2 separate regions of the Homo sapiens genome follow, and region 2 is linked to region 1. The links come from fine-mapping of genetic effects on gene expression. A gene starts in region 1. The other region holds a variant in brackets. All regions are shown on one strand. Distances are between the middles of the regions.

What was found.
Region 2: its variant is fine-mapped to the expression of MRPS23 in whole blood (TOPMed, PIP 0.94).

The regions. Positions count from the first base shown.
Region 1 is chr17:57,840,065-57,855,786 of GRCh38, forward strand. MRPS23 (mitochondrial ribosomal protein S23) reads right to left here and starts at 9,980. Exons shown (of 5, transcript NM_016070.4): 1 at 9,903-9,980; 2 at 9,176-9,346; 3 at 1,119-1,196; 4 at 862-988. The coding sequence starts at 9,946. RefSeq lists enhancers at 6,168-6,775, 9,961-10,290, 9,966-10,475.
Region 2 is chr17:57,805,048-57,820,769 of GRCh38, forward strand. No RefSeq gene overlaps it. Among named protein-coding and RNA genes, the nearest start is that of MRPS23, 37 kb to the right of the region's middle. RefSeq lists an enhancer at 5,580-6,466. The variant C/G (reference allele first, on the strand shown) is at 8,152.

The sequences.
Region 1 (15,722 bases):
TACTATAACAAATAGTAAACATGATTTTAAAAAGTCTATAGGGCCGGGCGTGGTGGCTCACGCCTGTAATCCCAGCACTTTGGGAGGCTGAGGCGGGCGGATCACGAGGTCAGGAGATCAAGACCATCCTGGCTAACACGGTGAAACCCCGTCTCTTCTAAAGCTACAAAAAATTAGCTGAGCATGGTGGCAGGCGCCTGTGGTCCCAGCTACTCGGGAGGCTGAGGCAGGAGAATGGCATGAACCTAGGAGGCAGAGCTTGCAGTGAGCCAAGACTGCGCCACTGCACTCCAGCCTGGGTGACAGAGCGAGACTCCGTCTCAAAAAAAAAAAAAAAAGTCTATAGAACCAAATTTCAAAAGCCCTAATGACGACTCACTTGTTTCAAGTAGCAGTCATTACCACAAAATTCTAGTATATTCAGTGTAACAGTATTTGACCTGGAGTTTAAGAACATAAGCCAAGGTTAGGGAAAGAAAACCAAGTCTCTCTTTAACTTCCATCAGATTGGCAACTCTGGTCAACCCTCTGCATCTACAGGTTCCACATATGCAGATTCAACAAACCACGGATCAAAAATATTTTAACAATAAATAAATAAAATAAAAAATATAAATTTTTAAAAATAGAGTATAACTACTTACATAGCATTTACAATGTGTTATGTATTATAAATGATTTAGAGATGATTAAAGTATATGGGAGGATATGTGTAGGTTATATGCAAAAACCACAGCACTTTATAAAAGGTATTTCAGCATCTGTGAATATTGGTATCTGCAGGGGCCCTAGCACCAATCCCCTGTGCATACTGAGGGACAACTATAAACCCAGTAACAATTTTAACAATGAAATACTCACAGTCCTTGCTTCGCCTACTCGTCTTAAAATGACACCTTCTGCCAATAAAGCCTTCCCTGTTTCCACAAATAACTTCTCTTCATCTGTTTCTCCAAGTTTCTGTAGCTCAGTGTACTTCTCCACAAACCTGTAATTCCAAGCAGTCACATTTTAGGTATGTTTGTAAGCATTGTTAAGACGCTGTTACACAATATCAAATGGATAACAAAATCCTTAAAAAATAATATGAATAGCCTAGGACTTATAAAATGGCTTACCGTTGACAGGTAGACTTGAAGTTTGGATTGAATAGATCAAAAGCTCTTTGACCAGACCCATACACTGAATAAAACTTCCTAGAAAATGCAAACAACATAATATAAATCTCCGATTATAGACTGTGGATGAGAATGGAATAAAAGAAATAAAGAATAAGTGCTAGGCACTGAGGAGTTAAGTACGGTATAACCCACATAGCCTAAGCTGAACAGTTTTGTTTTTTTAGATAAGTAATGCACACATGCACATGGTAAATACATCAAATAGCACAAAAGGGTGGCCAGTGAAAAGTAACACTCCCTCCCACTTCTGCACCCCAGCCCCCCAGTTCCCTTCCCAGGAAGCAACACTAACAAATTTCTTGTATATCCATCCAGAAATATTCCACTAATATACTAGCATATATGCACTATCATTCCCTGTCCCCAGCCACATTTTTAACCCCAAGAATAGTAAACCTTGCTCTACATCTTGCCTTTTTAAAAACTGAGGTATGGCTAGGCGCAGTGGCTCATGCCTATAATCCCAGCACTTTGGGAGGCTGAGGCAGGCAGATTACTTGCAACTGGGAGTTCAGCATGGTGAAACCCCATCTCTACTAAAAATACAAAGAAATTAGCAGGCATGGTGGCATATGCCTGTAGTCACAGCTACTTGGGAGGGTTAGGTGGGAGAATCACTTGAACCCAGGAGGCAGAGGTTGCAGTAAGTGGAGAGCGCACCATTGCACTCCAACCTGGGCAACAGAATGAGACTCCGTCTCAAAAAATAATAACAAAATAAAAATAAATAATAAAAACTGAGGTAAAAGTCACACATCATAAAATTAACTTTTTTTTTTTCCAAAGAGACAGGGTCTCACTGTGTCACCAACGCAGGTAGCAGTGCTGTGATCATAGCTCACTGCAGCCTCAAACTCCTGGGCTCAAGCAATCCTCTTGCCTCAGCATCCTGAGTAGCTGGAACTACAGGTTCGCAGCACCACCATGCCTGGCTAAGTTTTAAATTTTTGTAGAGATGCAGTCTCACTATGTTGCCCAGGCTGGTCTTGAACTGCTAGCCTCAAGAGATCCTCCCACCTTGGCTTCCAAAAATGCTGGGCTTACAGGCATGAGCCATTGTCCCCAGCCCACATTTAACATTTTTCAGTGTGCAATTAAGTGACATGTAGAAAACTCACAAAGCTGTGCAACTAGCACCTCTATCAAGTTCCAAAACATTTTCATCACCCCCAAAAGGAGGCACTGTATCTGAGCAGTCACTCCCCATTTCTCCTCCCTACATCTTGCCTTATCAGTGCCATGGAGATTGTTTCCAGTCCTTTACTACTCTAAACCATGCTGCAATCATTATCTCTATTTATAATTTTAGTGCACTACGTAAATAAGTCTGTGGCATAAATTCACAAATGTGGTACTACTGGATCAAGGTATGTGCATTTGTAATTAAGCCTTCCAAATTGCCAAAATGCTTTCCAAAGTGGCTGTACCAATTTACATTCACATAGGTAATATACGAGCACCTATCTCCCCACACCCTGACCAAATGACATTCTCCAGCTGAGCATAGAGGCTCACGCATATAATCCCACCTGCTTGGGAAGCTGAGGCATGAGGATCTTTTGAGGCCAGGAGCTCACCACCAGCTTGGGCAACATGGTGAGACCTGAGACCCTGTCTCTAAAAAAAAAAAAAAAATATATATATATACACACACACACACACACACACACACACACACACACACACACACGAGGCAGGTGCAGTGGCTCACACCTGTAATCCCAGCAAAAATATATATATATATTTAGACCAGGCGTGCTGGCTGATGCCTGTAATCCCAGCACTTTGGAAGGCCAAGGCAGGAGGATCACTTGAGGCCAGGAGTTCAAGACCAGCCTGGGCAATATAGTGGGACACCATCTCTACAAAAAAAATTAAAAATTAGCCAGGAATGGTGGCATACACCTGTAGTCCCAGCTACTCAGGAGGCTGAGGTGGGAGGATCACTTGAGTCCAGGAGGTCAAGGCTGCAGTAAGCCATGATAGGCACCACTGCATCCCAGTCTGGGTTAGATCCTGCCTCAAAAAAAAAAAAAAAATACACAAACACACACACACATGTTCTCCAACTTTTTGATCTTAGCCAACCTAATAGGTAAGAAACCAGAACTCTTTATAGTTTTAATTTGCTTTTCTTTTTAAAGAGACTGGACATCTTTTCAAGTTTAAAAGCAAACTGAATTTCCTTTTCTGTGAACTGTCCAAGTTCTTTGTCCGCTTTTCTATTTGGTGGTTGCTATGGACTAAACGTGTCCCACCAAAATTACTATGTTGAAATCCTAATCCCCATTGTGATGGTATTTAGAGATGGAGGCTTTGGGAGGTAATCAGGTCATGGTAATCAGCCCTCATGATGGGATTAGTGCCCCTATAAGAGATAGAAGAGAGCTTGCTACCACTCTCTGCTCCCCTCAATGTGAGGAATCAGGAAGACAGTCCTCCCCAGAACCTGACCCTGCTGGCACCCTGATCTCAGACTTCCTAGCCTCCAGAACTATGAGAAAGAAATTTCATTTGTTTATAAGCCACCTGGTCTATGGTAATTCGTTACACAGTGGTCTCTTTCTTAATGATTTCTAAGCAAACTTTGTAGCCATATACATAGAAAATTAGTCCTTTGTCATAACATTGCAAAGATCTTTCCCAGTTTGTTGGCTGTCTTTTGATTTTGCTTACAGTACTTTTTTATACAGAAAATTTTAATATTTTCTTTTTATGGCTTCTGAGTTTTATATCATGCTTAAAAAGACCTTTATCACTCAGATTATTTTTTTAATTCTCCCATGTTTTCTTCCAGTACTGTTATGATCTCACTTTTTACACTTAGATTTTAATACATCTTTTTTGTTTGTTTTATTTATTTTGTTGTAAGTTCCTTTTTCTTTTTTTTTTTTTTAAGAGATGGGGTCTTGCCATGTTGCCAGGCTGTTGTGAGTGCAGTGGCTATTCACAGATACAATCATAGTGTACTACAACCTTGAACTCCTAGACTCCAATGGTCCTCCTTCCTCAGCCTCCCAAGTAGCTGGAACTACAGGCATGCACAACCACTCTATAAGCTTTTTTAAATATCAAAACCACCAAAAAAAAAGAGGGCCACAAAGATAAAGGTTCAATAAATTATATAAATACAAGATAATATTTTGGTGTTAATAGAAATAATTTTTATATATTCTGACAATAGTAAAAAATTAAAAAATAAAAAAAGAATTTAAAGAAATAATATTTAACAGGCTGGGCATGGTGGCTCATGCCTGTAATCCCAGCACTTTGGGAGGCCAAGGTAGGTGAATCACTGGAGGTCAGAAGTTCAAGACCAGCCTGGCCAACATGGTGAAACCCTGTCTTCCTGAAAATACAAAAAAAAAAAAAAAAATTAGCCCGCCGTGGTGACACATGCCTGTAATCCCAGCTACTCGGGAGGCTGAGAAGGAGAAATGCTTGAACCCGGGAGGTGGAGGCTGCAGTGAGCTGAGATTGAACCACTGCACTCCAGCCTGGGAGAGAGAGAGAGAGCAAGACTCCATCTCAAAAAAAAAAAAAAAAAAGTAATATTTAACAAGAGGGACAAGTAAACTATTCCACATTCTCCAATCATTTATCATCCAGTCCAAATCTACAGCAGAAGCACAAATGATTTTTTAAATTTTTTATTTATTTATTTATTTTTGAGTCGGAGTCTCACTCTGTCACCCAGGCTGGAGTGAAATGGTGCAATCTCAGCTCACTGCAACCTCTGCCTCCTGGGTTAAAGCGATCCTCCCACCTCAGCCTCCAGACTAGCTGGGACTACAGGTGCATGCCACCACGCCCAGCTGATTTTTGCATTTTTAGCAGAGGTGGGGTTTCACCATGTTGCCCAGGCTGGTTTCGAACTCCTGACCTCAAGTGATCCACCCGCCTCGGCCTCCTGAAGTGCCAGGATTACATGTGAGAGCAAAGCACAAATGATTTTAATGTATCAATGAACCACAAAGTGCATGCAATGGGTCTGAGAAGAAAGGTGCTGAAAAAGCATTTAATCTCCTCAAAGATCTCATGTTGTATGCCGAAAATATCCAAGTAGAACAAGAACATACTTGTTCTGCTACTTTAAATGAGTGTTGGTGTTGGGGGTCCCGGGGTGAAAGCCTGGGCCCCAATTCGGAACATAATGACCTTATAAATTCCATTTTCTAGCATCCTGAAACAACAGTAAGAATAAGGGATGTGTATCAAAGTCAATTAGGCACACTCATTGGTATAAATATTTAAGAGAAAAAGGAACTAGACAAATTCAAGGTACTAAAAGCTAATTAACATCAGTATTCAAGGGGAGGGGCTTTGTCAGTAAACTCCCAGTGAGAGATTTACCACTTACTTAGATCTTACATAAATGTATAGGGATGCTAAATGTGGCCATAGAAGTGGTTTCTAGCCCACTGTTCCTGAAATTGTTTCAGAAAACTAATAAAATTCTGATGGCCATTCTCCAAACAGTCCCAGTCCTGGCCCTCCACCATTCCTCTCCAAGGAATTTTCTTTCGTTTCTCTCTACCAGCCTCATAGTTCATCTGTCCATTAATCCATTAGCTTCTTCATTCAAGAGACGATTAATAAGCAACTTATATGCCACACAATGGGCTAGGCACTGAAGTTACAAGAATGAATTTGACAATGCCTGGCCCATGACAGTGCTTAATGAATGTTTGTTATTGAATAAAGACAGGGCATTTGGAATGTAGAGCTATTAAAGACAGGCTAAGGCCACAACAGGGGCAGTATGAACAAAATTCAGGGCACACAAAAGGGGAAACATGAAAACAGAAAAGTAGTCCCAAAGAAGTGTGACATCTTTGTTTTTTTTTTTTGTATGAAAAAAATAAGGTGGGGGGCAGCCCCCACCCAGCCAGCCGCCCCGTCTGGGAGGGAGGTAGGGGGCAGTCCCTGCTCCGCCAGCCGCCCCGTCCGGGAGGGAGGTGGGGGGCAGCCCCCGCCTGGCCAGCCGCCCCGTCCGGGAGGGAGGTGGGGGGTAGCCACCGCCCGACCAGCCGCCCCGTCCGGGAGGGAGGTGGGGGGCACCCCCGCCCGGCCACTGCCCCGTCCGGGAGGTGGGGGGCACCTCTGCCCGGCCGCCCCGTCTGGGAAGTGAGGAGCCCCTCTGCCCGGCCGCCACCCCATCTGGGAGGAGTACCCAACAGCTCATTGAGAACGGGCCATGATGACGATGGGGGTTTTGTCGAATAGAAAAGGGGGAAATGTGGGGAAAAGAAAGAGAGATCAGATTGTTACTGTGTCTGTGTGGAAAGAGGTAGACATGGGAGACTCCATTTTGTTCTGTACTAAGAAAAATTCTTCTGCCTTGGGATGCTGTTAATCTATAACCTTACCCCCAACCCCCTGCTCTCTGAAACATGTGCTGTGTCCACTCAGGGTTAAATGGATTAAGGGCGGTGCAAGATGTGCTTTGTTAAACAGATGCTTGAAGGCAGCATGCTCGTTAAGAGTCATCACCACTCCCTAATCTCAAGTACCCAGGAACACAAACACTGCGGAAGAACGCAGGGACCTCTGCCTAGGAAAACCAGACACCCTTGTTCACATGTTTATCTGCTGACCTTCCCTCCACTATTGTCCTATGACCCTGCCAAATCCCCCTCTCCGAGAAACACCCAAGAATGATCAATAAATACTATAAAAAATAAAAAATAATAAAAATAAATTAAAAATAAAAAATAAAAAAAAGAAAAAATAGAGAACTTTAAAGATATTTTTAAGAATGTTGCTAGGAGGCCGGGCACGGTGGCTCACACCTGTAATCCCAACACTTTGGGAGGCAAGGCGGGCGGATCACGAGGTCAGGAGTTTGAGACCAGCCTGACCAACATGGTGAAACCCCATCTCTACTAAAAATACAAATTAGCCAGGCATGGTGGCGTGAGCCTGTAATCCCAGCTACTCAAGAGGCTGAGGCAGGAGAACAGCTTGAACCCGGGAGGTGGAGGTTGCATGGGGCTGAAATTACACCACTGCACTCCAGCCTGGGTGGCAGAGCGAGACTCCATCTCAAAAAAAAAAAAAAAGAATGTTCCTAGGCAACCATTAGGAGCACATTTTCTGTGACTATTTAAGTTTTGGAAAAAAAGAGAATAAAGAGGCCGGGCGCGGTGGCTCACGCCTGTAATCCCAGCACTTTGGGAGGCCGAGGCAGGCGGATCACGAGGTCAGGAGATTGAGACCATCCTGGCTAACACGGTGAAACCCTGTCTCTACTAAAAATACAAAAAATTAGCCAGCTGTGGTGGTGGGCGCCTGTAGTCCCAGCTACTCAGGAGGCTGAGGCAGGAGAATGGCATGAACCCGGAAGGCAGAGTTTGCAGTGAGCCGAGATTGCGCCACTGCACTCCAGCCTGGGAGACAGAGTGAGACTCCATCTCGAAAAAAAAAAAAATACTTAGATCAGAAAAAAACAAAACTTTTTTTTTTTTTGGAGACAGGGTCTCCCTCTGTTGCCCAGGCTGGAGTGCAGTGGTGCACTCTCAGCTCACTGCAACCTCCACCTTCTAGTTTCAAGCGATTCTCCCACCTCAGCATCCAAAGTAGCTGGGACTACAGGTGCCCACCACCAAGCCCGGCTAATTTTTGGTATTTTAGTCAAGACAGGGTTTCACCATATTGCCCAAGGTGGTCTCGAACTCCTGAGCTCAGGCAATCTGCCCACCTCAGCCTCCCAAAGTGCCAGGATTACAGGCGTGGGCCACCGTGCCTGGCCCAGAAAAAAAAAATTCTTAAATAATCATTATCAATACTGACAAGGATAAAGTAAGAACTCTCAGAAACTGCTAATCAGAGTGTAAACTAAGACAACTACTTTTTTTTTGGTAGAGACAAGTCCTGCTATGTTGCCCAGGGTGGTCTCAAACTCCTGGGCACAAGCTATCCTCCCTTATGCCTCCCAAAGCACTAGGATTACAGGCACAAGCCACCACATCCAGCCTGTGATTTCTTTTTATGCTTTCTTTGTGTATCTAAATTTTCTACAAGTAGCATGTGTTGCTTTTATAATAAAAGAGGAAGTATTCTTGCCACTGAGCTTAAGAAAAAGAAAAAAAAAGAGAAAAGGGATGCTAAAAAAAAATAAAGAACACATGATTTTCCTTCAAATTCCTAGTGATTGTCTCTCTCTGTCGCCCAGGCTGGAGTGCAGTGGTGGGATCTCGGCTCACTGCAACCTCCACCTCCCAGGTTCAAGCAATTCTCCTGTCTCAGCCTTCCGAGTAGCTGGGACTACAAGCACCCACCACCATGCCCGGCTAATTTTTGTATTTTTAGTAGAGACGGGGTTTCACCATGTTGGTCTGACTGGTCTCGAACTCCTGACTTCAGGTGATCCGCCCGCCTTGGCCTCCCAAAGTGTTGGGATTACAGGCGTGAGCCACCGCACCCGGCCTCTCTTAGACTTTCAAGCATCCTTTCATCTGAGTGGCTTCAAAGAGCCGGACTACTAGATCCACAGACCACGTTCCTCCTATCTCCACTCGTGGAGAAGGCCGGCATAATGATCACCATAAGCTTGGAGTCAGAGATGTGATTCCCAGATCTGCCACCCTCCTATATATTTAGTAATTACAAGAAGTTAGCTAATTTCCTTGAGCTTCGCAGTCTCCTTGAATAAAATGGAAACAAGAATGCCTTCCTTACAAGTTAGAGTAAGGCCTTTAGAGAATGAGATAATGCTTGCAAAGAGCTTAGTACAGTGCCTGGCCCAAAGCAGATGCCCAGAAACATGCGGCTATAATTGCAATGATCTTTCGGTTGCTGGGCTCCAGATTCCACTTTTCAGAACTTCAGTTTCACTATGAGGAAGGGGTGCTGCCTCCCTAATTTGGCTAGATAAGCCTTCTCCACAGGGCAAACCCCTGACTCAATTTCATGTTTGAATTCCCAGACTGCTACCGAAACCTTCCCTTCTGAAGTTCTGTTGCCTCCTGTCCACTACAGGGCTGAGCACTCACGCTCTAATCCGATCCTCGTGGTACCAGATGTCTTGGATGGGAGCTTTGGCTTTGCCATATCGCACTCGAGGCCTTTGGAAGACGGGCTCCCTCAGCGGGGGAAAGGCGTCATATACGTCAAACCACAGGGGCTTCTCCTTCAGCACCCCGGCCCGAACCAGGTCCCGAGTCCTTAGGGAGGGAACAGAACGAAACTGGGTCACTTGCAGTAGCCTGCCAAAGCCCCTGAATCAGTCTAGCACAGTTTGGGACATTAAAGGTATTATGCGGTCTGCAACACAGAACGGGGAAGGACTGCTCCCCACCTACAGAGAAGATCTGTCCACATCCCAAACCAAACTTAACAACGCTCAGGAGAGTTAAATCCCTCTATCTTCTTTTGTGCGTCCCACCCACGTTCGGTCACGGAAAAATGCAAAGAGCGGTCTTGCATGACCTGATAAGGAAGGCCCATCAGGCTCTTCCTCCCTTCCTCTTCCTAGAGACCTCCACTCGGGGAGAGGCAGCTGCAATAATCTTTAACATGACACATAAATTCAAGGAGAGGCATCCTCAGGCACAACTATTCGGAGCCAGGAGAAAACATGAGAGGGCCTCACCCAGCTCAGCCCCCGCACCCTGCAATACGCCTCGCCCTGCTCAGGTCCGCTCCAAGGAAGAGCGTGACCGGCTGAGAACCCCAGCCTGGGGGAGGCACCCTCAGCCCACCACGGCTGGGAGCACACACCGAGAGAAGATGCTCCCTACGGTTTCCAGCCGGCTGCCTGCCATGATCTGCGCCTGGTACCGAGCGTGACTAGCTGCTACCGGAACCGGAAGCGGCTGCTCCAGGTAAAGGGCGCATAAGTTGCTGGCCGAGCCAAGGATCGCTGGGCTTTCACCGCAGCCCCTGCGGGAGAGCGGCGCAGGCAGAAGCAAGTGATAGGCCGAACGGGCGCGCTCCGAGGTTACTTGCCAGGTTCAGGCAGGAGCACTCGATAGCCGAGCCAAAAGGGCAGGAGCGAGCCAAAGCCGGACAGAAGTAATAAATGACCGAGCTGTGGGAGGGATTCATCATGATGGTTGCTTTACTCTCTCTCGCCTTGTTGAGCCAACTCCTCTGAAAAGGTGGGGCCGCGCGGAGGAGAAGTAGTGGGGCAGAGCAGGGGTGAAGCGCAGCCTACAGTCCTAGGGGAGCCAACAAAGGCCGAGATTTGAGGTCACCAGCTCTAGGCCCAGGCTGAGCCTAATGTTGTTTAGAGTCACAGACTACGCAGAAGAAAACCAAGGCCGGGGAGGGGCCGTCACTTGCCCAGCGTCGTGCTAGATCTCGGGCCTCCGCCTCTGGCTGTGTAGTGCTCCCCACTAAGCCCCTCGTCCCCGGAGTGCCACCTGCATCCACGCTAACTAGGATGCTGGCTGCAACTCGTGTTTCCCGCGGCCGGTGTCGCGGGCTACCTCCTCCTTGGAACTCGAAAAGTGAAAGTGTCCGGAACAAACAGACGCCGAGAGGGAAACGAAAAAATCTGGAGAAAGTCATCTCTCAGTGTTAAACTGTAAAAAAATATAAACTGTGTGTAGCATACCCTTTGACCCAGTAATCATATTTCGGGGAAAGAACCCCTTAGAAATTAAAGCATCAATTCATGAGGATGTTTGTGCAAGGATCATCGTTGCAGCATTGTTTGTAGTGGGAAAAAAAATCCATCAGATGAGAAATAGCTGGAAAATTATTGTTCATACTTTCTTTGGAACCCTATGCAGCTATTAAAATGAATGAGCTAGATCCACATGTATTTACCAAGGTTAAGGTACATGACTTATGTTTAAATGAAAAACGAAGTTGCAAAGAAACATGTTTAGTGGAATCTCAACGTGTTAGAAAAAAAAAAGGAAAAAGAAACACCTCTATATATGTTTGTGTTTGAGGATAGAAATTCTGCAGAAGGACACCCAAGGCTGTGAACATTGGATATCTCGGAGTGAAACTGCAGGCAGGCAAGGGAGAATTTTTTCTTCCTTTACACATGCTTCAGAGTTTGACTTGTAAAGAGATTGTATTCATATTTGAACTTTTAATCCAATGAATGTTTTGAATCACACACAATGTCTCCTGGGAGCCTAGTCAAGTCATCCTAGAGTCCTCCCACTCTGAGGCTGGTGAAGGGGAGGACGGGACTGTTTGATGAGTAGTTACTGCTTGTGTGTGTTATCTTACTGAATCCACATACCTTCCCATAAGGTAGCTATTAACATCCTCATTATAGATGAGAAAGCAAGGCCTCAGGAAGTTACATAACTTGTCTGATAAGCAACTGATAGAGCCAGCCTTGGGGGGGTGGGGCAGCCAGGGCCCTTTCCAGTGCCTCACAATGCCGCCTAAGCTATGCCTAAAGCTCGAGGCTGGTAGGCTCAAGAGTCCAGCAGAACGCCGCTCCCCACCCGCCCCCCCCACAACACACACACACACACACACACACACACACACACACACGCACGCCAGGGATCCAGTGATTTGAGGCCCAGGGCTAACCTGAGGTGGATTTCACTGCTGCCTCCAGACCCTCTGGAACAGAGAAGAGAGAGCACAGCTCTGGCCCCAGGCCAGGTGTAAAGGCTCTAGTATCCCAGCCCTCAGGAGGTCTAAAAGACCTTGCTCTGGGGAGAGTAAACATGCTCCCAGCTAAATATAGTCTTCCCAGGCCTCATAACAACTTTCTAATTCTGTCCCAGCCAGCAAGCACTATCTGCCAGCCCAGATTACAGGCACACTTCTCTTCTCCCACCAGGAACTGCTACTGTAGGTTAGTGCAGTCACTGCAGCTAAAGAGTTAAAGGGTTTATTCCAAGATCAAGGAGGGGAACCAAAGACGCAAACCCTCAATAGGGGAAGAACTGCAAGGCAGAAATGTTCTCGCTAATCTTGGGGTGGTCCCTTCCTCTTCCAAGCCTTTGAAGTTTCCCTTTCCAGCCTGCTTCTGTGACTGAGAGCAGAATATTGGTGGGCAGACTTGGGGGTACTTTGGGGATAACAGCCTTCTGAGGCTACACAAGAAGTACACACCCAAGAAACATTCATTCATAATACAGGAGCAAGCTGTCGGGCAGCAGGGGGCAGGCAGAATGGACATTTGAGGCTGTCTTCTTGAGTGGGGACCACAGCCGCCCAAGGCTGTGAGGGCCTGGGGCACTTACACCACGCACCACTGTGCCGCGGGAGGTACCAAGGAACCTCAAGTGTCTCATTCAGTTGTTCAACCACCTGCTGACATAGGTAATGTCCTGCTAATCTTACAGATAAGGAAGTGGTGCTTGTAAACTCCCAAAGGCCATGTTCCTACAACACCACTCGGCCTCATATTAATCCCACTGTCTCATTGTAGACGTGCCCACTAATTGCTTCACTCTGAGCAAGTTATGTAACTTTTCGAGCCTCTGTTTCTCCAACTGTTAAAATGTGGAGCTGGGCTCAGTGGCTCATGCTTGTAATCCCAACATTTTGGGAGGCCAGTGTGGGAGGATTGCTTAAGCCAGGAGATCAAAACCAGCCTGGGCAAAATTAGCCAGGTGTGGTGGTGCATGCCTGTAATCCCAGCTACTCAGGGGACTGAGGTGGGAGGATGGCCTGAGCCCAGGAGTTCAAGGCTGCAGTGAGCCATGATCACACCACTGCACTCCAGCCTGGTCAACAGAGCCAAGACCCTGTCTCAAATAATAATAATAATAATAATAATAATAATAATAATAATCTGGATGGCAGTGTCAACTATCTTCGTGGCTTGTTGCAAAAGTAAAAGAGATCATTCATGTAAAGCACTAATCACGGCACCTGGGACATAGTGAGTGCCTGTGAGCAGCAACAAGCCTGATGGCTGTAACAGCAACACGATTGCTGTTGTGCTGTGTCATCCACCCATTGCCACCTGGACTGCAGCATTTTGATAATATTTCATAGATTGCCTTACTGTTTTACTTTCTTGTTAGATGATCCGTTCGTTCCAGAAGCATATAAACACCTACCTGACTATTCTGAGTCTTAGAGAATCCAACGGTCCAGTAGGGAAGACAGAGAGGTAAATACATAAATATTAAGTTATGTGCTGAATAGCTTGTTGATTGTATGAAGTTTGCTAGGCCTGCCCTAACACCACTTGCACACAAAGTGGGTGGCTTAAACACAGATTTATTTTCTCCCTATTCTGGAGGCCAGAAGTCCAAGATCAAGGTGTCTGCAAGTTTAGTTTATTCTGCACTTGGCTAGTTTCTCCTTGCCTTGGAGACAGCTTTCTTCTCCCACGTCTTCACATGGTCTTTCCTCTGTGTGGGAAGGTTTTGTCCTAATCTCTTCTTATGAGGACACCAGTCTTATTGGATTAGGGCCCACCCTACTGACTTCATTTTAACTTAATTACCTCTTTAAAGACTACCTCCTATTATAGTCACATTCTGAGGTACTGGAGTTAGGACCTCAACATATGATTTTTGGGGAGACACAGCTCAGCCCCTAACATAGATCAGTAAGTGCTGAATAGTTCCCATTTGCCCAAGCAGTTCCACACCCACTCTCTGCCGTCCTTCGCCCTGTTCTGTGCCTCGGGAGGCTGGCTTCTGTGGCCTGCATCCACCAGCTCCTTGCCCTCTGCTTCTGGCTGGATTCCAGTTGGTACTGCCAGCGGGCTCCCTCCTGGAACATAAAGTTCTAGAACATAAAATCACAGCTCTCTCACCAGGTTCCAGCCACCGTCCCTCTCCTGCTCCTTCAAGCCTAGACGTAGTTGGCAAGCTGTACCCCTCTGTTATTAGCCACGGGGTCTAGGCCATCCCTTGTGGCTTCCCATCACTCTGCCCACATCTTTGTGACAATGCCCGTATTTAAATAGTGCGTGGAGGTCAGGCGTGATGGCTCATGCCTGTAATCCCAACACTTTGGGAGGCCAAGGCGGGTGGACCACTTGAGGTCAGGAGTTCGAGACCAGCCTGGCCAACATGGCGAAACCTCGTCTCTACTAAAAATAAAATAAAAAATAAAAAATAAAAAAAATTAGGCGGGTGTCATGGCACACACCTGTAATCCCAGCTACTTGGGAGGCTGAGGCAGGAGAATCACTTGAACCCAGGAAGCGGAGGTTGCAGTGAGCTGAGATTGCACCACTGCACTCCACCCTGAGTAACAGAGCAAGACTCCGTCTCAAAAATAAATAAATAAATATTGTGTGGGAATTTGTCAGACAAAATGAGGAAGAGCATCATCCCCAGTAGTGGAACAGCTTTGGTAAGTGAAACTCCCAGCACACTGATGAAATCATGAATGCTGCTACTCACCTATGACAGCTAAAATCAGGGAGCAATTAGCTTTAAAGGGAGGAAAGCAATACAGTATATTCAATACACAGTTTAAGAATTATGTCAGGCCAGCTGTGGAGGATCATGTCTGTAATCCCAGCACTTTGGGAGGCCAAGGCGGGAGGATGACTTGAGGCCAGGAGTTTGAGACTAGCCTGGCCAACATAGCGAGACCTTGTCTCTACAAAAAAAAAAAAAAAAAAAAAAAAAAAAAGAAGAAGAAAAGAAGAGAAAGAAAAAAGTTAGCCAGTGCAGTGGCACAAGCTGGTAGTGCTAGCTACTCATGAGGCTGAGACAAGAAGATTGCTTGCGCCCAGGAGTTCGCAGCTGCAGTGAACTATGATCGTGCCACTGCACCCCAACCTGTGTGACAAAGTGAGCCCTTTTCTCTAAAAAAAGAGAGAGAGGATTATATCAGGATCCGTTAAAAAAAAAAGAATTGTAGGCTTCCTGAGTCTGAGGACCAGGAGGATGAAGGGCAGGGAGGGCTATTAAAGGAGGAGGCAGCCAGGCACAGCTGCTCACGCCTGTAATCCCAGCACTTTGGAAGGCCGGGGTGGGTGGATCACTTGAGGTCAGGAGTTCGAGACCAGCCTGGCCAACGTGATGAAACCCCGTCTCTACTACAAATTTAAAAATTAGCCAGGCATGGTGGTTGGCACCTACAATCCTAGCTACTCGCTACTTGGAAGGCTGAGCCAAGAGAATTGCTTGAACCCAGGAGGCGGAGGTTGCAGTGAACTGAGATCGTGCCACTGCATTCCAGTTGGGGCGACAGAGCAAGACTCCATCTCAAAAAAAAAAAAAAAGGGGGGGGGGAGTCAGAGTACCTTCTCTTTCCTTCCGGCTGTTGGGCTTGTGCCCCTCTCCTGAGAGCTCCCCTTCAGACCCCCTTCCTAGGCTTCAAGGAACTGTCAAGAATCAGTTCAGGTGGAAAAGCTTTTCAGCCCCCAGCACACACTCGGTAAGATCGGGTGAGTGCCCAGACCTGCTCCCTCCCTTCCTATGCTTATCTCTTTCAGGGCTATGTCTGTGTTGTAACTCTGTTTACCTGTCTGAGTCTGGCTACAGGGGCCTTTTTGAGGGCAGGAACTAGGACTTTTAGCTCTGCCTCCCCACACCCGGCCTGGTGCTTGGCCCACAGCTCTCAGAGTTTTCCAGTGAACAGCATGGATAAATAAAGCCAAGTTAGGACAAATGAGGATGCTGTCATCTCAGCCTTCCC
Region 2 (15,722 bases), 35 kb before region 1:
AGTGATCCTCCCACCCCAACCTCCCAAGTAACTAGATCTATAGGCACACATCACCAAGCCTGACTAATTTAATTTTTTTTTTTTTTTTTTTGGAGAGATGAGGTCTCTCTATGTTGTCCAGTCTGGTCTCAAACTCCTGGCCTGAAGCACTCCTCCAACTTCAGCCTCCCAAGTAGCTAGAACTACAGATGTATGCCAACAGCTAGGATGTGTTCATTTTTAATTCTAATACTCACTTTGAGATTGCTTTCTTAAAAGGGTTTAGCAATTCATATATCCATTAACAATGTATGAGAGTCCCTGTTTACTCACACCGTTGACAACATTGGATGTTATCAATCTTTAATTTTTGCCAATCTGATGACTGAAAATGGTATTAATTGTTGTTTTATCTTGCAGTTCCCTGACTACAAATACAGTTGAGTGTCTTTTCATGTACTTATCAGCTATTTGTATTCTCTCATCTGTAAAATGTTTGTTCATAGGCTGGGCACAGTGGCTCACACCTGTAATCCCAGCACTTTGTGGGGCCAAGGCAGGTGGATCACCTGAGGTCAGGAGTTCAAGACCAGCCTGGGCAACATGGTGAAACCCCATCTCTACTAAAAATACAAAAATTAGCAGGGTGTGGTGGCACATGCCTGTAATCCCAGCTACTCGGGGGGCTGAGGCACAAGAATTGCTTGAATCTGGGAGGCGGAGGTTGCAGTGAGCCGAGATTGCGCTATTGCACTCCAGCCTAGGTGACAGAGCAAGACTCCATCTCAAAAAAAAAAAAGTTTGTTCATGTGCTCTGTCCATTTTTTAAAAGCTTTGTCTTTTTTTCTTATCAGGTTACATATTAGGAATGTTGTTTCTTGTCTGTTGTGTGTATTATCATTAGTCTTTTGACTCAGAGTGACTTGATGATTTTTGTCCCTTCCTTCTCAGCTTCACTCGTGAATGTCAACTTTCACCATTTTTTCTAACTTAACCGTCAAAGATATGGGACTGGGAAGAGGCAGACCATGACCATAGAACAGAGAGGAGGCTGAAGTCATAAGAGAAGAGTTTGCTCTAGGAGGCTGGGAAAACCAAGTTGGACAGCATTTGGCATCTATAATACTCTTTGTTCTGCTTTAAATGGTCCTCCTCTTATGGGAATAGAACCCTTCTCCCATATCCCTTTAGCCAGCTCACTCCTACTCATCCTTCAAAACCCAGCTCAAACATCACTGCCTCTGAAAAGCCTTCTCTGATCCACCCACAAGCTGACCTGGAGACCCCTCTGTGCATAATTCTATTCTAGCACTCGTCACATCACCCCCTGACCCATCAGTTTCTTGTCAGTCTCCCTTTCAGACTGAGTGCTCCTTTAGAGCAGGACACTCCCTGAAGCACAGTTCCACCCTCAGGATCTAGCCCCTCTGAGAGTATTCAAAAAAGGATTTGAACAAATTTAGCAAATTGTTCTTCAGCAGCACTGTGCCAGGTGCTGTGGAGGTGACAGATGGATTATAGCACATGACCCCTGATCTCAGAGAGATCAAAAACTAGCTGAGACATAAGAACGCACTAACATTGAAACAACAGCCTGTGAAAGCAATTACATTTAAGTAGACTATTATGTCATTGAGAATGCACGTGTTCCAGAAGGCCTGGGCTGCATGTGCGGGGGGCACAGGAAAGAATCAGGGAGAATGTGGGACTTGATTTGGGTCTTGGTTGTGGGCGAAGTCTGGATGTGGGACTTAAGGGTGGGTGGGATTTGGACAGAGGGTAAGAGGAAGTGAGGGCAGCTGGTAAGAGGGCAATGGGCAAAAGTATGGGTGTTATTTTTAAAGACAGGGTCTTGCTCCATCACCCAGGCTGGAGTGCAATGGCACAATCATGGTTCGCTGGAATCTCAAACTCCTGGGCTCAAAGTGATCCTCCTGTGTCAGCCTCCCCCGTAGCCAGGATTCTTCAATACCTCCATAATATTCTATAATATTTAAGTACTAGAAACAGTGGAGGGACTGAAGTGACCAGAGCAGAGAGTTTGTGCTGGGAAGAGGAGGAAAACTGAGTTGGACAGCATCTAGCCTCCCGGCAAGGAATTTCTGAATTATGGATAAATATGCATATTGCCTCCCAGATTCCAAGAGCTGATTATGGCACTCTGCCACGTATGCTGAAGATGTGTTCATGTGTTTCTCCCACTCAACTGTGGGCTTCTGGTCAGTCTGGAGTGTAATTGGCAGAATAATGCCCCTCTCCCCTTACCCACCCCCACGCACAAAGATGTCCACAGCTTAATCCCTGGAACCTGTCAATACGTTTTGTTACATGGCAAAAAGGAATTAAGCTAGCAGCTGGACTTAAGGTCACTAACCAACTGACTTTAAAACAGGGAGATGATCTGGATTATTGGCGTGAGCCCAATGTAATCACATGGATCCTTCAAAGTGGAACAGAAGCAGAGAGTCAGAGGGAAATGTGACTACAGAAGGTCAGGGTGACACAGTGGGAAGGATTTGGCTCAATGTTGCTGGCTTTGAGAATGGAGGAAGGCTGGGCGTGGTGGCTCACACCTGTAATCCCAGCACTTTGGGAGGCCAAGGCAGGCAGATCACCTGAGATCAGGAGTTGGAGACAAACCTGGGCAACGCGGTGAAACTCCATCTCTACTAAAAATACAAAACTTAGCTAGGTGTGGTGGCACATGCCTGCAAACCCAGCTACATAGGAGGCTGAGGCAGGAGAATTGCTTGAACCTGGGAGGTGGGGGTTGCAGTGAGCCGAGATTGCACCACTGCACTCCAGCCTGGGCAACACAGTGAAACTCCGTCTCAAAAACATAAAAAAGAGAATGGATGAAGGAGGCAAGAAGTCAAGGAATGTGGGGGGCTCTAGAGGCTGGAAAAGGCAAGGAGATAGGCTCTCCCCAGAGCCTCCAGAAAGGAACATGTCCTTGCCAACATCTTGATTTTAGCCCAGGAGACCCATTTCGGACTTCCAACCCAGAAAACCATAAGACAATTAGTATTGTTTAAGGTAGGGAGGCCCCGACCCCCAGGCAGTGGACCGGTACCAGTCAGTGGCCTGTTAGGAACCGGGCCACATAGCAAGAGGTGAGTGGCAGGCGAGCAAGCATTACTGCCCAAGCTCTGCCTCCTGTCAGATCAGCGGTGGCATTAGATTCTCATAGGAGAGTGAACTCTATTGTGAACTGCGCATACGACGGATTTAGGTTGCACACGCTTTGTGAGAATCTAATGCTTGATGATCTGAGGTGGAACAGTTTCATCCACAAACCATCTCCCCCCACCCCATCCCCATCCATGGAAAAACTATCTTCCACAAAACCAGTCCCTGGTGGCACAAAGGTTGGGGACCACTGGTTTAAAGCACTAAATGGAAGGTAATTTGTTACAACAGCAATGGGAAACTAATATAGGAGGGACCTATATGTGCATACGTCTCATCTGTATTTACATACATGCATAACTTGGCTCCAGTAAATTGAAGTGTTCAGAAATGATTACTTAATGAAATTACATAAAGAATTCCTTTCGGTCAGGCGCGGTGGCTTATGCCTGTAATCCCAGTACTTTGGGAGGCTGAGGCAGGAGGATTGCTTGAGCCCAGGAGTAACAAGACCAGCTTGGGCAACATAGCAAGACTTTATCTCTATTAAAAATAAAAAAAATTTAGTCAGACATCGTGGTGCATGCCTGTGGTCCCAGCTACATGAGAGGCTGAGGCAGGAGGATTTCTTGAGCCCAGGAGGTTGAGGGCTGCAGTGAGCCATGATCATGCCACTGCATTTCAGCCTGAGTGACAGAGGGAAGAGACCGTGCCTCAAAAATAAATTATTTTCATCACAGTATTATTTACAGTAGCAAAGACATGGAATCAACCTAGGTGTCCATCGATGGTGGGTTGGACAAAGAAAATGGTGTACACATACACCAAGAAATACTATGAATCACTAAAAGGGAATGAAATCATGCTCTTTGCAACAACATGGATGCAGCTGGAGGCCATTAGCCTAAACCAATTAACGCAGGAACAGAAAACCAAATACCATGTGTCCTCACTTATAAGTGGGAGCTAACCCTTGGGTATTCACGGACATAAAGATGATAACAATAGACACGGGACTATACTAGAGTGGGGAGAGAGGGAGGCAGGCAAGGGTTGAAAAACTAACTCTTGCGTTCAATGCCCACTACCTGAGTGACAGGAATCAATCATACCCAAATCTCCACATCACACAATATGCCCAGGTAACAAACCTGCACCTGTATCTCCTTAATATAAAACAAAAGTGGAAATTATTTTTTAAAAAAAGAATTCCTCTTGTTTCAACATCTCTCCCAGAAAACAAAAACCGAACTCCATCCATATACCCATTGCTTGTAGCCGTGTGCTTCAAGTCAGTTTGCTCTTTAGCACAGACTTTGATTTCGCTATTATAAATAACACTATAGCCAGCCAGGTGCAGTGACTCACACCTGTAATCCCAGCACTTTGGGAGGCTGAAGCGGTGGATCTCTTGAGGTCGGGAGTTTGAGACCAGCCTGGCCAACATGGGGAAACCCCGTCTCTACTAACAGTACAAAAAAATTAGCCAGGCACAGTGGTGGGCGCCTGTAATCCCAGTTACTCAGGAGTCTGAGGCAGGAGAATCACTTGAACCTTGGGAGGTGGAGGTTGCAGTGAGCTGAGATCACGCCACTGCACTCCAGCCTGGGCAACACAGTGAGACACCATTTCAAAAATAAATAAATAAATAAAACTAGAGCAAGCATCTTTCCTCTGTTTTTGATGAAATTTGTTTATCCTAAATGAAATTAATGAGTCAAAAATGACGCACATTTTGTGTGGCTCTTCACTCATTTAGCCAGCTTACTTTCCACAGAGTTTGCACTAATCTACACACTCACTCACAACGTGGGAGAGCACCACCCTCTGCCACAACTGGGCCCGGCAGGGGACACATGCACAGTCCCCTCCTTGCACATTCAACTTTTTCCTGCTCCAATATCGACTGCATAACTTCAGGCTCAAGTGGGGCCCTCCACAGTAAGCAGAGATCCTAAACACTGCGTTGTGGTAGAAAAAGTGATTTCTCTGTAGCCACAAGGAACATTCTTTAGGGATAATGCTGGTCCAGGAGGGAGGAGTCTGAACATCCCTAGTTTATTTTATCAGCAATTGCAATGAGAGGGTTTTGTTTGTTTGTTTGTTTGTTTGTTGGAGTTGCAAGAGATGATCTGCCTGTTCAGGGAGCTGGTCATCTTCCACTGCCCTCAAATAGAAAGCCTGGAAATTGTACCTGACTGACCCAAAAGAAAAAGCTGGTTTATTTAAAAGTCTGGTTCCTTTATCCCCTTTGCAATACAGTGGTAGGTTTTTGGTTTGTTTTGTTGGTGGTGTTTTTGTTTGTTATTTTGTTTGTGTTTTTAACGAGTTCTTTGGTGACTATGCTAAAAAGACCATCATGGAAGCAAGAACATCAATAATTTTTTCACCCACTTCCAGCCCCCAGGACAGAGACAGACCTGGAGGCTTCATCGTCCCTTAGGACTGACTATCTTCCTTGCTTCAGGGAAGAAAAAAATCGTATGACAATGTTGCTTGCCTTGGCTTGCCTGTGGGTGTGGGGGATACAGTCCAGGCACGGAGAGGCACCCGAGTAGGAGCAGGATAAAAGGGCCTCCCAGAGATTTAGGCTCAGAGACTCCAGGGAGATTGGGCAGTCGCTGTCCCAGACGCTATCATGAGCTCTCAGCCTGATGCTTCCATGTGAAATGGGGCCAATCAGATCTAGCCCTAGGACGACAGTCCCCCCCTGCACCCAGAGGCACAGTCTGGGACTCTGGCAGGCCTAAAGTAACTAGGTTTTGCCTGCACATGTTTGATCCAAAGAGTGGAAAAAGCCTTTGGACTCCGGAGGTCTTCACTGGGGTCCTGGCCGCTCTCCAGACTTTCCTCGTGACCGGGGGCCTTCGGTTCCCTGGGCCTCGGGTTCTCTCTCTGTGAAGTGGCCAAACAATCCTGCCTCCCAGGGAGCGAGCACGCGGCTTGTCCGGGGAGAAAAGAGCAACAAATATTTATAAATCCATCACTGAGGTGGCGCTGAAACAGCTGACGGAGCGAAGCCTGACCCAGTCGGGTCCCGGGCCCTCCACGGGGGTCTGCGTCCTCCCGCTGCCTCCCACCCACCCCTGACAGGGCGGGGCAGACCTCTCGGGCAACTTCCCAGACTATGAATTTCCTTTGGCACTTTGAGGCTCCCCCAGGAGGATTCATGAGACCGCAGCAGGAAATGAGGAACATATTTTTAAATCAGAAGGGGGAAGCAATGTCTTTCTGTCAGATAAGTGGCCTGGATCCAGGGCTGAGAGACTGTGGCGCATTTCTCCTCGCAGACAGCAGGTGCTCTTCGAGATGTGGTTATGGCAACAAAATAAATGATGGATAATTGCTTTTGTGACAACTTGCCAATTAAATTAGACTCAGCAGAATAACATAATGACAATTTGTTATGCTCCGATGGGCACTAACATACCGATCATAATTAAATGCTATGACTGAAATAGAATACCGCTCAACGCAGGAATATACAACCCCAATTCCCTCTCTGTGAAACTTTATAGGTTGAGGCTTGATTTTAATTTCAGGAAGATAATGGCATTAGCTCATATCCGAGTGGGTTTGTGGAGAGGCCTGTGGTGAGGGGAGATGGGCCTGAGCAGGAAGGCGATGCCTGTAAGGAAACACCCGGGGGGCTGAACTCCAAGGTCAAGGGGAAGGGCTGAGGAGCCCTGTCGTGAAAATAGTGCTTGCTGGTCTGGGAAATGGAGGCAAAGGAGGAGCAGAGCAGGGAAATGGAGGCAAAGGAGGAGGCCCTCGCCCATGGTCTGCAGTGACAGGGCCCGTGCTGTGAACAACTCCAGGCCTCCACGCTGAATGTGTGGGGCATGTCCTTGAACAAGGAGCCCAGACTCACAGGTGATGTTAAAGAGGAGCTTAGGGGCGACTTGGTGCTAGGCATGTACAGCAAGTAGTAGAAGTGAGAAGTCCACTCAGTCTGCAGATGCCCTGCCTTCCCCTGCCCCTGGTGACAGCTGATTGGGCCAGAAGTGAATAGCTGACCCAAGGTGGGCCAATCAAATTCTTCCTCTGGAAACTTTGCAGGTGAGCTACTGAGCTAATTCTATAAAACAGTCATACATGTACAGATTGATGTGTAAGCACTTCCCTATATTATAATATACATACAGGACACGCACATATAAAAGCTGCAACTCGACTGTCAAAAACTTGACCTAAACGTGATATTCTAGGTATTGATTGTGTATTCAAGTTTTAATATATTTGTTGATGAATTCCCAAACCATTCCATAAAAGATTTGAGGTGGCTTTTGAAAAAATCAAGTAAGAATAATTCTGTTTGCTGTTTTTAGAGTTTAAAAGGGGTTTCTATATAGACAAAAAGGATAGTTGGTGAGGTCTCTCTCTCTTTTTTTTTTCTTTTTTTCTTTCTTTTTTTTTTTTTTTTGACAGAGTCTCGCTCTGTTGCCCGGGCTGGAGTGCAGTGGTGCAGTCATAGCTCACTGCAGCCTCGAATTCCTGAGCTCCAGTGATCCTCCCACCTCAGGCTCCCAAGTAGCTGGGACTATGGACGCGCACCACCAGACCTGGCTAACTTTTGTATTTTTTTGTAAAGACAGGGTTTCACCATGTTGCTCAGGCTGGTCTCGAATTCCTGGGCTCAAACAATGCACCTGCCTTGGCCCCCCAAATTGCTGAGATTGCAGGCGTGAGTCACCTCACCCAGCCTCTCACTTTCTTGCTTACAAATCTCAATTTTTTAAAAAACAAAGTAATGCAAAAATAAATTATATATTTAGTAATCTAAAGTGTTTAAAATAAAAACTCATGCTCCTCAATCCTACTCCCCAGTGATGATCACTGACATCAACTCGGTGTATATCCTCCGAGCCTTTCTTCTCTGCCTGAGCCATCCTTTAAATGTGAAAATGGCTCCAAGGTTATTTATGGGTACAATGATAGGGTATATGGGATTTGCTTCACATTAATCCATGGGTGAAGGAGACAATGAATGGGATGGAAAAAGAATAGCCAAGAGCTTAAAATTGTTGCAACCAGCCGGGCGCA[C/G]TGGCTCACGCCTGTAATCCCTGCACTTTGGGAGGTCGGGGGGAGTGGATCATTTGAGGTCAGCAGTTCAAGACCAGCCTGGCCAACATGGTGAAACCCCGTCTCTACTAAAAAAAAAAAAAAAAAAAAAAATTAGCTGAGCGTGGTGGTACACGCCTGTAATACCAGCTACTCGGGAGGCTGAGGCAGGAGAATTGCTTGAACCTGGGAGGCGGAGGTTGCAGTGAGCCAAGATCGCACCACTGCACTCCAGCCTGGGCGACAGAGTGAGGCTTCATTTCAAAAATATATATATACATATATATATATGTATATATATATATTTTTTGCAACCAGGTGATGAGATGTGGAGTTTCATTACACTATACTCTTTACTTTTAATGTGTTTTAAAAATTCTACGGGTGGTGGCTCATGTCTATAATCCTTGCACTTTAGGAGGCTGAGGCGGGCAGATCGCTTGAGGTCAGGAGTTCAAGACCAGCCTGAGCCACATGGCAAAACCCCGCCTCTACAAAAAATACAAAAATTAGCCAGGTGTGTTGGCTCATGCCTGTAGTCCCAGCTACTGGGGTGGCAGAGGCAGGAGAATTGCTTGAACCTGGGAAGTGGAAGCTGCAGTGAGCCGGGATCTCACCACTGCATTTCAGCCTGGGTGACAAAATGAGACCCTCTCTCAAAAAAAAAAAATATACAGTACACCAGGTATAGTGGCTCATGCCTATAATCCCAACACTGGGAGGTCAAGGCAGGAGGATCCTGCCTTGAGGTCAGGAATTCTAAACTGACTTGGTCAACATAGTAAGATCCCCGTCTCTACAAGAGAAAAAAAAATTAAGTTAGCCCGGCATGGTGGTGAGCACCTGTAGTCCCAGCTACTGAGGAGGCTGAGGTAGGAGGATTGCTTGAGCCCAGGAGTTCAGAGCTGCAGTGAGCCCTGACTACATCACTGAATTCCAGCCTAGCTGACAGAGAGAGACTCTGTCTCAACAAACAAACACACAAACAAACAAAAACTACAATCATAGCTTACATTTTTAACTACTGTTTTACCTTTTTTTCTTTTAAAAAATAGAATTTTGCCTTATGTGCCATTCATCAGTTTACTCTTTAAAAAAACTAACAGCTTGTTGTGGACATAGCTCCATGTCTGCACAGCTATTCTTTCTCATAGTTTTCCATTGTATGGATTTTCTACAACTTAACCAACCTCTGTTACCCTGAAGGACTATTTGCAGTGTTTTTCTATACCAAAGAATGCTAAGTAAACACACTTAGGCATACATCTCTTCTCTCTTGAAGAAGGTTTCCGTATGACACATTCCTAAAAGCATAATTTCTGGCTCAATGGGAAAATGTATTTTAAATTTGACTGCAACTGCCAGGCTCTTCATCAAAAATGTTATGGCAAGTCTTAGTTTTGTCAGCTATGGATGCCTTTTTATCTGTATCCTTCCAAAACACTGAGTACTAGCAATCTGTTTAATTTTGGCTAATTTTGATAGGGAAACTACATCTCCTCTTGGTTTTAGTTGTGTTGTTTTGTATTTTGTTGCTAATTTAGAGTATCATTTCATGCTTTCTATGCCATATGTGTTTCTTCTTTGTGACTTGCCCAGATGTCACCTGTGTTCATTTATCTATGGTATTTCTTTTTCTTACTGATCTGTAGGACATTTTTGTATATTATGGATGTTATACTTTTATCAGTTACGTATGTTTAAAATATTTTCTTCCATTCTTTAACTTTTGTTTGTGACATTTTTCACCATATAGAAGTTGTTATTGTTGCTTGTTTGTTTATGTAGTTAGGACTGTTGTTCTTTTCCTGCTGTCTTCTGGTTTTTGTGTCATGCTCAAAAAGGACCTATTTTTTTTCTAGCACTTTTATTGTTTTAATTTTTATTTTTAAGCCTTTAATCCATTTCGGATTTATTTCAGGTATGGAACCAGAAAACGGGCACAGGAACCAAATTTGAATTTTCTCTGAAATTCACAACCTTTCCCTGTTTATGTAATAAACCATCCTTTTCTCACTGATGTGAAATGCTATTTTTGTCATATATTTAATTATCATATATACACAGATTTTTTTCTAGACTCCCTGTTGTACATATTCCCCTGGTCTAATTGCCTATTCCTATACATGTACCATGCTGTTTTCATGGTTGTTGCTTTATAATACATTTGATAGCTAGTATTATATACATAATATTATATGCTTATATTTCAAATTTTTATTTTGGCTAATTTTATCCTTCCAGTTAAACTTTATTATCAAGTTGCTAAGTTAAAAATAAAAACTGCAATGAGATCTGATTAGAAATGTTTTAGTTGTATATATTAAGTTGGGAAAGGTGGTCCAAGTTTCTGAAAGACAAAACTATCCATGGATGCCCACACATACCCTGGATGCCATGACCAGAATTCAGTGTGCTCAGGTTCAGTCTAGGAATGATCCAGCCCCACACTCATGTCTTACTTCACTCAGCCTGCTCTGTATTCAACTCCTGTTCTCTCTTCCCATTGGGTTCTGTCTTTGCACATTTGGGCTGCTACAGCAAAATACCTTATACTGAGTAATTTGTAAACAACAGAAATTTATTGCTCACCGTGCTGGAGTCTGGGAAGTTCACAATCAAGGCACCAGCAGATGCAGTGCCTGGTGGGGGCCTATTCTTCATAAATGGCACCTCTTGCTACATCCTTACACAGCAGAAGGGGGAAACAGGCTTCACCTCTTTTATTTTTATTTTTATTTTTATTTTTGAGATGGAGTTTCGCTCTTGTCACCCAGGCTGGAGGGCAATGGCATGATCTCAGCTCACTGCAACCTCTGCCTCTCAGGTTCAAGTGATTCTCCTGCCTCAGCCTCCCAAGTAGCTGGGATTACAGGTGCCCACCACCATGCCAGGCTAATTTTTGTATTTTTTAGTAGAGACAGGGTTTCACCTTGTTGGCCAGACTGGTCTCGAACTCCTGATCACCCACCTCAGCCTTCCAAAGTGCTGGGATGACAGACATGAGCCACCTCAACCAGCCACTCCACCTCTTTTGTAAGGGACTAACCCCATTCATGCTGCCCTCATAACCTAATCACTTCCCAAAGGCTCTACCTCTTAATACCATCACCTCACGGGTTAGGTTTCAACATATAAATTTTGGTGAGACACAAACATTCAGACAAGCTCTAACTCTAATTCCTACTTGCCTATGAGTTATGTTTCTCTAGCCTTCGAATCATCTCCTTCTCTCCCAGAATGGCATGGCTGGTCTTCTCTCTTTTGACCATTGTGTAATCCACCCCCTCATACCGGTGAGACCTGATGCTTCCAGGCTGGTTCTACCCATGGAAGCTGGCCAGTAGGATCAGGATTAGACAATATCTTCGATGCCATAATAACAGAAGGAAATTTCAAAATCTTCTAGCTTAAACTCCCTCCTTTGACTTCATTCCACAACACAAAGATGACCATGGGGCTCAGACAAATAAAGTCATAGAATAACTGATGGGATAGGAAAGGTATTTTGAATTTTTTGGCAGTAGTGACAGGTGACACCTTTCTCTAGTGTCCACCTTCCCGGTCCCCTGCAGAGAAGTGGAAAGGAAATAGTCTAGGACAATGCTGTCCAACAAATCATTCTACCAGTTCCAGAAAGAGACTGTCTTCATGGAGATATGAAGTTTCTCCTAGCCAAACTGAACTTCCTACCATTTCCTGCTATTAGGGTCCCATGGGTGTTTGACAGGCCCAGGACTAGGGTGAGGCAAGAGCTGAATCTGCACTCACATGACCCAAGTGTGAGGGACTCGCTACACTTGTTCCTAGGTGTCTCACTTGCCTCACCCTAGTCCTAGCCCTGGAGTTGGGTTGTGTGTCACAAATGCTGTGGTCCCCTCCCCAGATCCCCTCTTCACCTGTTCCAGCTCTGGGGACTAAGCTCACAGCTACAACCCTCATTGAGAATTACTCTGGCCACAAGGAACTTCCCTGCCCAATATTATACCCCTTCCAGGGGGGACGTCTATGATCAAGGACTGGCTGAGGCAGGGATGAAAACACCTACTTTTTTTTTTTTTTATATCACTTTAGAAGAACTCTAAAAGAGCCATCCCCTCATCCAGAGCTCCAGAGCCTCAGCTCCCACAATGAATTAAGAACTATGATGCTTGGTGGGTTTCATCGGTTCTGGAGGTGCCACAGTCCACACTGTGGAACAGTACTCTAACCCTGCAGGTAACAAAGAAAGCTGCCAGCTTTGAATGGGACCCAGAGCAGGAAAGGGCTCTGCAGCAGGTTCAGGCTGTGGTCAGAAAGCCCTGCCTCCCGCGCTGTGTGACTCGGCAGGCTCTGTGGTCCTAAAGGCTCTGTGTTTTTTGTGGAGGAAGAAACACCACATGGAGTTTCTGGTGAACACCAATAGGAAATAATATTATAGATTCCTAGAGTTCTGAAGCAGGGCATGCCATCTGCAAGAAAAGCTACACACCCATTGAAAAGTAGCTCCCAGGCCAGGCGCGGTGGCTCAAGCCTGTAATCTCAGCACTTTGGGAGGCCAAGGCGAGCGGATCACCTGAGGTCAGGAGTTCAAGACCAGCCTGGCCAACATGGTGAAACCCCGTCTGTACTAAAAATACAAAAATTAGCTGGGCATGGTGGCGGGTGCCTGTAATCCCAGCTACTTGGGAGGCTGAGGCAGGAGGATGGTCTAAGCCCAGGAGGCAGAGCTTGCAGTGAGATCTCACCACTGCACTCAAGCCTGGGCAACAGAGTAAGGCTCCATCTCAAAAAAAAAAAAAAGAAAGAAAGAAAAGAAAAAGAAAAAGAAAAGTAGCTCCCAGAATGCTACTGGATCCTGGTAGAGATGAGGCTTCTGACCAAGTGACACCAAGTAACCAGACAACTGTAGCTCCCCATCATGAACTGGATCTGTCAGATCCACAGAGTCACGAGGGCAGGCAAGCCCAGTAGCAATCAGTCGTTCGATGGAAGCGGTACATTTAGGATCGGCACCCGGAAGCTGCATGGGCAGGTAGCCCAGGCTCCCATGTCATGTGTCAATATTTCCCTGGGCCCTGGCCCTCAGCAATCACCTATAGCTGCATGAGGGCTTCCTTACGGCCAGCTGACAGCAGAAGCAAAAGGCCAAGTTCAGTTCATAGAAGGGTCAGCTCAGTGTGGCAGTGTGAGCTGGGGCTGCTGCCAGTCGGTGGAGGCAGGGAGGAATACGTTTGGCATTTGGATAATCCACTGGGGCATTTCTTGGTGTTCCATACCCATTTTAATGATAATGGGCAAGTACAACAACCAGGTCTTGAAAAGAGCATGGTATCCATGTGGTCAGAACCCTCAGGAATGAGGGTCCAGGTCATCCCACCCAACAAGTCTCTTAGACCAGCAGAGATGCCAGCCAAGGGCAGGAAGACTCTGGTACAGGTGGTGGAGAAGGGGCATAAGGAGTACCAGGTAGAACCTTGAGATCAAATGCAGCATCAGAGTCTGTGTCTGTCCCATTAACCCTTCTCTTGTCAGTTTCCCCAGGAAGCAAAACTCACTACAATCATAAATAAGCCATCAGAGATGGGGCAAACTTACTACAAGAAACAAGTGACTCTGAGCCACTTGAAGGGTCATCTGTCACAGACACTGCCCACCCAGATCCCTTTTCAGGGCCCACACACCCATCCCCTAGCTACTGAGAATAGGGGCTGCTAATGGCTCAGAGGTTCATCCCTCATTGGGAAATGCATGACCCAAGGCACATCCCCTCCTGGGGGAGAGCCTTAGTCAATGACTGGCTGATGGGGGATGCAAAGGCCCAGCTCTCTCACAGTAGGACAGCTCTGGAGGGCCATCCCAGCTCCAGAGTTCCCTGTAGAATTAACTGAGGTCTCCATGGCCAGCACATTGTGGGGCAGCTACTCCCTCTGCCCCGTCCTGCCTCCCTTGCCCCCTTACAAGTACATCTCCCAAGAACACTCCTAATTAATGTTCTGCGTGCAGCTCTCTATCTCAGAGTCTGTTTCCAGGGAGCCCAACCTCAGACATCTCCCAATCTCAGGCTGAGATACTGGGAAACACAAATGATACTGACTCAGTCCCCTGACTCAAGGGACCCAAACAGTTACACAGTGATCTGCCAATCAACAGTTGAGCCTTTGACTGGTCTTCAGGTTGGTTGTTTCCAACCTGTTCCCTCTCACTGGGATTAAAGGAAATTACCCAAAAGAAAAAGAATGCAGCCTATACCACACTTCAATGGTCACGTCCATTCATGTGCCGTCCTTCCCCACTTGAAACCAAATAACTGAAAAAACTTTCCATAGTAATAGTGAAGGCTTCAGCAAGACTGGACAAACCCAGGGACCTCTGCTAGGAAACATGACTAAGCTTGTCCTTCTGAATGAAAGAGGAAGGGCTATTAGCATTGATGAGGTCCACAGGGAATTCAGTGTTATACAGGAATATTTTTTGTATATGACAGAGAAAAATGTAGAAAACAGACTGATTGATTGACAGACAACCTAATTTTTTAATCTGGACATCTTTAATAAATTCTGTAATGCAGGATTATCAATCTTATCTCACCTGGATTTCTACCCTTCACAAAGAGATGGCCTTGATTTTAGAGGCCAGAGTAAGTGCCTTCTTTATCAAAAGGCTCACTGTCAATGTCCAAGTTGAGCGGCCCTGGGTCAGTCCTCAGGAACAAAATTTCATCAACTTTTTATGGTAAGAGAGTTTTTCTGACTAGTTACACATAGGTAATCACTCTCTTTACATAAAACCTTCCTGGATTTGAAGTGCAAGCAAAATGCAAATGCCACTTTCATCTGGATGCGGTAATGCGGCTCCAAGAAGCTAAAGTCACTGTCGCAAGTTTCACATTGGCAGAATGCCGAATTCTTAACATCCAGAATCTCTTTTGACTCCTTACAACCATGAGAAGCAGGGGAAATGCTCTTATTATCCCCATATTGCAGATAACCAAACTGAAGCTCTCAGAAGTTAAATAACTTGCCCAAGATTCCAAAATGTGTCAGAGCTGGACCCCAACCTGGTGTGTCTGATGTAGAGCCGTGTTTTTAAACTATGATGTTATACTCCAATATCCTAAGTATTTTTGGCCATGTCATCTATACATCATAACATCACAGCCACTTACGTTTCATACTTCCACACTTACATATCAAATTGAATATTTTCTACAATGATTTAAAAATTTCAGGTTGTACTTCCTCCCCACTTTTGGGGGAATGGGAGTATGGTATATTGTCTATTGAAATTTCTCAAGATTTTTTAGTCAATTTATTTAAAGGCATTTCTTACTTCCACGTTAATAATAAAATTCAAATTCTAATTTTTTTTTATTTTTTTGAGATGGAGTCTAACTTTGTCACCCAGGCTGGAGTGCAGTGGTGTGATCGTGGCTCACTGCAACCTCCACCTCCCAGGTTCAAGCGATTCTCCTGCCTCAACTTCCCAAGTAGCTGGGATTACAGGCGCCAGCCACCATGCCCAGCTAATTTTTTGTATTTTTAGTAGAGACGGGGTTTCGCCATGTTGCCTAG